Linked DNA regions of Homo sapiens: region 1 is linked to region 2. Evidence: fine-mapped expression QTL. A gene starts in region 2. The other region holds a variant in brackets. All regions are shown on one strand. Distances are from middle to middle.

Evidence for each region. PIP is the estimated chance that this variant, and not a neighbour inherited with it, causes the effect. A credible set is the group of variants that fine-mapping cannot tell apart.
Region 1: its variant is the best candidate, but not a certain one, in a credible set for the expression of CD244 in whole blood (TOPMed, PIP 0.65).

What each region holds. Positions count from the first base shown.
Region 1 is chr1:160,822,515-160,826,908 of GRCh38, reverse strand. LY9 (lymphocyte antigen 9) reads right to left here. Exons shown (of 10, transcript NM_002348.4): 8 at 3,113-3,444; 9 at 2,660-2,728. Among named protein-coding and RNA genes, the nearest start is that of LY9, 29 kb to the right of the region's middle. The variant A/T (reference allele first, on the strand shown) is at 1,977.
Region 2 is chr1:160,860,656-160,865,049 of GRCh38, reverse strand. CD244 (CD244 molecule) reads left to right here and starts at 2,163. Exons shown (of 9, transcript NM_016382.4): 1 at 2,163-2,433. The coding sequence starts at 2,373. RefSeq lists an enhancer at 2,298-2,347.

The DNA.
Region 1 (4,394 bases), 38 kb after region 2:
TAAGTTTGACCGGTATTGACCCAAACACAAAGGGCCAGGCCAGAGTAGAAAGCAGCTCTGGGAATGCAGTGAACAGCACAGATTTGGCCTTAGGTTCCAAGGCAAAGTCTCTAGCTGGCTAAGCATTAGACTACTGTCTAGAAGTCAGGATGAGATGGATGATGGTTGAACCAAACCACACATCCCAACAAGTGTTTACTGAGCAAATTCTATCCATCTTTTAAGGCCCAACCCAAATTCCTTTTTCATGATGTGTTTCCTCTTTACCACAGTGCAGTGATATCCCCCACCTTCAGCTTCTGAAAAACCCTTAGGAACTGTGCATACAATTTATTAAGTAGTCAAGTAACTTTAACCCATTTACGCAGGAGGTTGCAATTTTTTGAATTTGTGCATGAGTGAAAAATCAGACCCTGGTGATGATCTTGAGCAGTAGAATATAAATAACTCCTACACGCTTAGTGTTCCAATAATGGAACACCAGGCATAAGTGCAACATATGTTTGAACTGCATGGCCACTTATATGCAGATTTTTTTTCAATAAACATCACACTGAGTGTGCCTGCCTCTCCTGCCTCCCCTTTTACCTCCTCTACCTCTTTTACCTCTACCACTCTTGAAAGAACAAGACCAACCCTTCCTCTTCCTCCTCAGCCTACTCAATGTGAAGGTGAGGATGAAGACCTTTACAATGATCCAATTCCACTTAATGAATAGTATACATATTTTATCTTCCTTATGATTTTCTTAATAATTTCTTTTCTCTAGCTTACTTTATTGTAAGAATACAGTATATAATACACGTAACATGCAAAATATGTGTTAATCAAATGTTTATGTTTTTGGTAAGGCTTCTGGTCAACAGTAGGCTGTTAGTAGTTAAGTTCTGGAGAGTCAAAGTTATAGAATGATTTTTGATTGCATGGAGTGGGGTGGGGTTGGCACTCCTAAACCCCTGAATTGTTCAAGGGTCAACTGTAGTCTTTTCTTTTTTTTTGAGATGGAGTTTTGCTCTTGTTGCCCAGGCTGGAGTGCAATGGTGTGATCTCTGCTCACCGCAACCTCCACCTCCTGGGTTCAAGCAATTCTCCTGCCTCAGCCTCCTGAGTAGCTGGGATTACAGGTGCCTGCCACCACATTCAGGTAATTTTAATATTTTTAGTAGAGATGGGGTTTTACCATGTTGGCCAGGCTGGTCTTGAACTCCTGACCTCAGGTGATCCACCTGCCTCGGCCTCCCAAAGTGCTGGGATTACAGGCATGAGCCACCACGCCCAGCCGAGAGTTTTTTAAAAAATATTTTTTTGAATATGTTATAGGGAGGGAATTTGGGGGAGATTTGAAAGCAAAAGTATGAATGGACACGATGTTTTCAGGAAAGTGAAAATGAAATGGACAGCCAGATCAAGGTGAATTATTTAAGATTACTCAGGATGATCTTAAAACGCCTCATGGTTCTTAATACTGGAACTTCCAAGTACTATCTTTGTCACCTTAGGCAAAATTAACTTCCTTGAATCTGTTTCTTTGGCTATAAAATGTGGATGACAACACTTTTCTAGAAGTATTACAAAGATCAAAGAAGAATGTGTATCAAGGTATTGTAACTGCAAAACTTCATATAAAAGCAAGTCAGTTATTATTATCATTATGATTATTTAATGATAAATTCTACCTGTAAGGGATTTTTTTTTTTTTTTAAGACATGGTCTCACTCTGTCACCCAGGCTAGATTTCAGTGGCATGATCTTGGCTCACTGCAGCCTTGAACTCCCCGGCTCAAGCGGTCCTCCCACTTAAGTGTCCTAAGTAGCTGGGACTACAGGTGTGTACCACCACAGGCCTGGGTAATTTTTTTTGAACTTTTTATAAAGACAGGGTTTCACCATGTTGCCCAGGCTGGGAATTTTTTTTTTTTTTTTTTTTTTGAGATGGAGTCTTGTTCTGTTGCCCAGGCTGGAGTGCAGTGGCACGA[A/T]CTTGGCTCACTGTAAGCTCTGCCTCCTGGGTTCACGCCATTCTCCTGCCTCAGTCTCTGAGTAGTTGGAACTACAGGCGCCTGCCACCACGCCTGGCTAATTTTTTTTGTATTTTTAGTAGAGACGGAGTTTCACCATGTTAGCCAGGATGGTCTCCATCTCCTGACCTTGTGATCCACCCGCCTTGGCCTCCCAAAGTGCTGGGATTACAGGTATGAGCCACCGCGCCCGGCTGGGATTTTTTTAAACACTAGAATAAAACTAATGTACTGTAGGTGGTGGTGTATTTTCCAAAAATTCTTGTTGTTAAATTGTTAGCTAATTTTCAATGGTTTTGAGAAGTTGTCATTTAGGTAGATTAGGATTAGGGTTAGAGATAGATTTAAAAAGCTATAAAGACCCTACCTTGTTTGAGTGTATAAGCTGTCATTCAGGTCAGTGTTAAAAATAACCAACATAAGATATTATTAAATCAATTAGAAATGTTCAGCCTTTGGTCACACAGATGTCAGGAATATTTGTTTATGCATCTCTGTTGACCATGGAATGTATCTGAGGGGTGCATAGTGGGTAGAATTTAAGATCCTTAGCCATGGGAATCTCGGATTTTCAGTTCAAAGGGTCTAAGGAATAGTTCCTCACTCTGTGGGCCTTGGGATACAGAGAATGTAGTTCTCACCACCTGAGGTTTCCGTATGGAGCAGTAGATTGTGGCTGAGCTCTCTTCCTTCTGAGAAACTGGGGTCTTTCCCTGTAACACACCAACAGCAGATGAGCCCTAGTGACCACATGAGAGCTTTTCAGTTTTACCCTCAACCCTTGAGGAGAGGGGATACCCCCTGGCTTCCCATCTCACACACAGGGTGGGAGCTGCCTTAGTGCAGTGGGGACGGTGCCTCTGGTTCTCCAACACCTTCCTTATTAGTGGCCCAAGAATGAGAGCTGAGGGACAAGTCCCTCGTTCCACAGGATCCCAAGGTTTGGTAAACATGGACACAGCCATGAGTCCCTGCCCGTATGCCCCTAGTCCTGTTTCCAGGCCCCAGCCCCCAGTTTGGAGGAACTAGTCATCCAGGATCTCAGATGCCGCTAGACATGGGAGGAGGAGGAAGGTGTATTGATCAGAAGGGCTCACCTGTAAGTTGAACACTTGTGCATACATGGTGTTCTCTCCAACCACAGACTCAACTTCCGTGACATATGGAGTGACGGGATCATAGTCTGCTTGGCCCTCAGGGGCTGGGTCATGTCCAGCGCCCTCCTGAGTGACCTGGTCAAATACCTCATATCTTCCACTGATGGGCTTGTGCACCTCAGGCCTGTCCTCATCCTCCTCAGTTGTGAGGTTGCTGTCAGAGCTGCTGTCTGAGGTGGGTGTAGGCTGTTGCCTGGCAGGCCTGAGGGGAGTGTCCAGCTTCTCATATCCTTGGGAGAGCACAGAGTATAGCGTGTGGCCAGCTGTGGGTTCTGGAACACATTGTGCAGGGCTGATAAAAGTATGCCAACCCCACCTCTCTTCTTGCTTTGCTGCAAGGCCCCAGCCTGCTCTGATGCCTGCATTAGATGAGGCCTAGAGAACCGAAGGAGATTGTTTTGTCCTGTCTTCCCTCAGGGGGTCCATTCCACTCTCCCTTCCTCCTTCCTTTCAAGCATTCATTTATTCATTCATTTGATAAATATTAAATATGACATGTGATAGACTTTAGCAACTCTCTGGCCCTGTGGGATAAACCATGCCAAGCATCATTGCAGGTACTCTGGGGAAACACAAAGGTAAATTAGACCTGGCCCTGGAGGAGCACCCTGTCTAGCTGGGGAGTCAGGTGCATGTGTAAATCAGTAATGTAAGGCCAGCTTTGCCAAGTATCCTATGGAACGTATGAGGAAAGTGCAGAGTTGAGAGGAGATGACTCTGGTTAGAGAAGCAGAGAGGAACTCATGAAAGTGGCAGAATTGAGGTGGGTCTTGAATAGGGATTCAATATTTCGATGAGTGGAAGGGTATTCTAGGTGGAGGAGGGAACAGCATGATTAGAGGCAGGTGTAAAGCCTGGAGCAGTCTCTTTTTCCGAAAGGATGATATTAAAAATACTTAACAATTGCAATGGTCAGGCCTTAGGCAATCAGCATGGGCACCTGTGAACAGTGGCATGGTGGATGCGCTGTGAGGGCCGGTGTGGCCCACTGGGTGGATATGCTGTGAACGCTGTCATGGCACACTGGGTGGATGTCAACCCTGCCTGTGGGGCACATGAAGTAGCCCATTTTGATACAGGAGTTAAGAAGAAATTACTTAGGCAGATAGTAAGGATATGGGAGTCCTTGGTCAGGCTTTTCTTTTTATTGAAAAGCAGCCCCAAATCATTTTCTAACAAAGAGCAGCCTGCAAGCTGGGAGCTTGCATGGGTGAACACCAGC
Region 2 (4,394 bases):
CCTCCCAAAGTGCTGGGATTACAGGTGTGAGTCACTGCGCCCAGCACCTTTTTTTTTTTTTTTTTTTTTGTGACAGAGTCTTGCTCTGTCTCCCAGGCTGGAGTGCAGAGGCACAATCTCAGCTCACTGCAACCTCTGCCTCCCAGGTTCAAAGGAGTCTCCTGCCTCAGCCTCCCGAGTAGCTGGGATTACAGGCACACACCACCACACCCGGCTAATTTTTGTATTTTTAGTAGAGATGAGGTTTCACCGTGTTGGCCAGGCTGATATCGAACCCCTGACCTCAAGTGATCCACCTGCCTTGGCCTCCCAAAGTGCTGGGATTATAGGCATGAGCCACTGCGATCAGCCTACAAATAGCAGATATTGTGTGATAGAGTTTGTCAGGGACCACAAGACAGACACACACTCAGTGGTACAGCTGCTCCGAGTTCTGTTTCCAGGGGATGATAGGTCATCCACATGCCTGGTGGGAAGGATGGAGCTGGTGTTGGGGTCAGGATTGGAGAGGCTGATTCCTAATTCACATTCATTAGTGGGTTCCAACAGCTGGATCTTGTTTTCCACCTGTCGTGTGAGGAAGTTTACCCTTCTTTGTTATATCATGTCTTGTGCACCACTTCTCAAGGTTAAGGACATGGCCAGATCAACTCTGAAGAAATTCCCCAGGGTTGAGGGCTGCCCCTTGGGAGCAGACAAAGGAGAGAAGAGATGATAACCATTAGACCCGCTGGAAAAAGCTATTCAGAGCTTAAAAAAATGAAAACAAAACCACAAAAACCTCATCTATGTCCAGTGTTTTTTGTGTGCATATTCTGGAGTATCATTTTTAATTTGATCCTGAAAACTGCCTTGTGAAGGTGGGGAGGATGTATTGTTGACCCTACAGGCTCAGACAGCAACAAGGCCAGAATCACATAGGTTGTAAGTTGCTGAATGGGAGCTGCAAGTCCAAGTCTTTGACTCTAAATCCAGCGCTCTGTCCAGAGCCCCGCTGCTGCCTCTGTTGGCAGCTGAAGCTGTCAGTCTGCTGCCCCCTGCCCAGTTCAGACAGGGTGGCTGGAAATGGACCAAAGGATGGAAAAAGAGAATAAGAGCGGACTTGAAGGGAACTGAAAGTATTTGTTAAGGGGAAAGCAGAAGGAAGAAAGAAAGAGGCATGAACCCTGGGGCCTGGCCTTGAAGCACAGTGTTCCAGGGGAGGGGGGATGCCGCTGTCCCCACCCCTCCATGGGGGCCTAAGCAGATCCAGAGCTGCCTGGCCTTCCTGGAGGGTGGCGTCCAAGCATGGATGGGAAGGCAGCAAAAATAGGCCCATGTCACTTCTGGGAGAAGACAAAAGAGGGAAGAGAGGACTACTATAGAAAAGTAGAAAAAGAGGAAGGGAGGGAATCTAGGCATACAGATCGGAAATGTGGAGCAAAACAAAATTTTTTTTTTTTTTTTTGAGACACAGTGTCGCTCTGTCACCTAGGCTGGAGTGCAGTGGCGTGATCTTGGCTTACCGCAACCTCCACCTCCTTTGCTCAAGTGATTCCCCTGCCTCAGCCTCCCAAGTAGCTTGGATTACAGGTGCACGCCACCCAGCCTGGCTAATTTCTCTATTTTTAGTAGAGGTGGGGATTCACCATATTGGCCAGGCTAGTCTCGATCTCCTGATCTCAAGTGATCTGCCTGCTTCAGTCTCCCAAAGTGTTGGGATTACAGGCGTGAGCCACTGTGCCCCGTGTGAAACAAATTCTTATGAAACAAATTTAATTTACATGTGCTTAAACTTTGGTGTCAACTTGCATGGAATCCCCAGGCTTGCTAGATTTTTCTAGTGCCTCCAGCCCTTAGGTCTCTTCCTATGTTCTCTCAGCTACTCCTCCTTTCCTTCAACACTGTTAGCCGCTTATCCAGGGCCCTACGTTTCAGCCCACTCCTCCTCCAGCCCCTCTCCACTCCACCTCCACAATGTCTGTTGGAATGGAACAGTTGGGGATACTGGCTGTTTGGCCCCCATGGGGGTCTCTCCATATAGGATTCAGAGAATTGGAAGACTTCTTGGGCTGAAGCAGAGAACGGGATGCAATTTTGAAACTGGCTTTGTGAGTCACTGTGAACTTCAAGCACCCTCCCACTTGAGGTAAGCTTCACCAGTTTGGCTTGTGGGAACTGTCAGACCAGCTCCAGGCGCTGGGGCTTTCTCAGTGGCCTTGTCAGCTCACAGCAGGCGTTAACAGCCTCTAATTGAGGAAACTGTGGCTGGACAGGTTGCAAGGCAGTTCTGCTCCCCATCGTCCTCTTGCTGACTGGGGACTGCTGAGCCCGTGCACGGCAGAGAGTCTGGTGGGGTGGAGGGGCTGGCCTGGCCCCTCTGTCCTGTGGAAATGCTGGGGCAAGTGGTCACCCTCATACTCCTCCTGCTCCTCAAGGTGTATCAGGGCAAAGGTAAGGAGGTCCTACCTGGCGTGGGGCGAGGGAGGGACTAGGAGCTGTGCCCCTCAGGGAGATCAGAGCCAGAGCCTCTGCTTGTGCCACATACACAGTCATCTGGAACTTGACTCCGAGCAGCTCCTGACAGCTCTGACAGTCTAAATCAGACAGGACAGGCTGGCAGTGCACTGGGAGGTCTGTGAGAGGGGTATCTGGCCCTGCCACCAGCAATCCAGGAAGTCTTGGGTGAGGAGATTCCTTCCCACTGGCTTCAATTTACCCTTCCGTGTAGTGGAGAGAGAAGCCTCCTTCCAGCCGCCTGTAAAGATGATGAAAATTGCATCCTCCAATTGTGGCATGAGAGAAGAGAAGCAGTCCCAAGGAAGTGGGTGGTTCTCGAGCTCAGAGACAGATGGATGGACCCCTGAGGCAGGAAAGCTGAGCCCAGGGAGGGGAGGGCGAGGCCAGCAGCCAGGAAGAAGCTGGAAGGCATGGTCCCTCATCTCCCCGGCTTCTTCAGCCATCCAGATGCCACAGGAGCCTGGAAATTATTAGGGACATGCAGGGTTGGGGCAGAAGAAGGAGACAATATGAGGAAGCTCCACAGCAAACCTAAAGCTGTCAGCCAGGCATGGAGCCATCTAACATTTACTCCTGGGGATCCCAGCTGAGGGCTGCTCCCCTCTTTCTCCAGTTCTGGGGTCCAGGATGCTCTGAAACCTGGATCCCGCATTTAATTTAATTGAATTAATTTATTTATTTCATTTTTAATTTTTATTTATTTATTTATTTTTTGAGACAGAGTCTCCTTCTGTCACCCAGGCTGGAGTGCAGTGGCGTGATCTTGGCTCACTACAAACTCTGCCTCCCGGGTTCAAGTGATTCTCATGCCTCAGCCTCCCGAGTAGGTGAAATTACAGACGTGCGCCACCATGCTTGGCTAATTTTTGTATTTTTAGTAGAGACCAGGTTTCACCATGTTGGCCAGGCTGGTCTTGAACTCCTGACCTCAGGTGATCTGCCCACCTTGGTCTCCCCCATCCAAAGTGCTGGGATTACAGGTGTGAGCCACCATGCCCAGCCAGGGTTCTGCATTTTAGATCAGTGACTCTGCAGGGGCTTCACGGAGGTGGAGAGCGTGGAATTAGAGGAGGGTACACTCTGGGCACAAAGAGGGGAAACTGAGGCATAGTGTTGTGTGGGTTCAGGGCCAGGTAGAAGCCCCATATGCAATAAAGTCCCATGCCCAGGTACTCAATTCAGTTACCGAGTCCCTGAGCATTCTTGTGTCCTTCAGGAAGACACAGTCAAGGCTCAGGTGGACTCAACATTTGTAAGGATGCAGGCAGCCTAGGGCAGAGCATGATGAGGAACAGGGAGCAGGGAGGGAGGAGTGGAGCCTGCAGCTCTTGTGGGTGGGTTGGGGGGCCTAGTGGCCCAGGATTCTAGGCAGGAGAGCTAGGTTGGAACCTGGTCTAAGGATCCTTGAATGCAGCTCAGACAGCCGAAGGAGGACTGATGGGATTGGTGCCTGGCTGTGGGGATGAGAGTAACAGAGAAGCTGAGGTTATGACCCTGAGGTCATGAGCCTGTGTGACAGAGGGCAATGCTCCCTCCACCCCCATTCCCAGGGCTTCAGCACCATAGCTGGGCTTGGCTATGCCGGCCCTTGCACGGTGAAGCTGGTGAGTGACTTGTTAGGCACAGGGAGGGATGGACTTGGGTCTTCCTGAGCTGCTTCCTCCTCCATCCTGTGTCTATAGGGCAGGCCTGGCATAAGTTGACTGAAGCTGCTCTATTTCTTTAATTTTTAAGCTTTTTAGTTTGAAATAATTGTGAAGTTCCAGGGAAGCTGCAAGAATAGTTCAAACGATTCTTGAATTTCTTTCATCTAGATTCACCAATTAACATTTTATCACATTTACTTTATTTCTCTTTCTCTAGCTGTATGTATATGTGTGTATAAATGTACAATA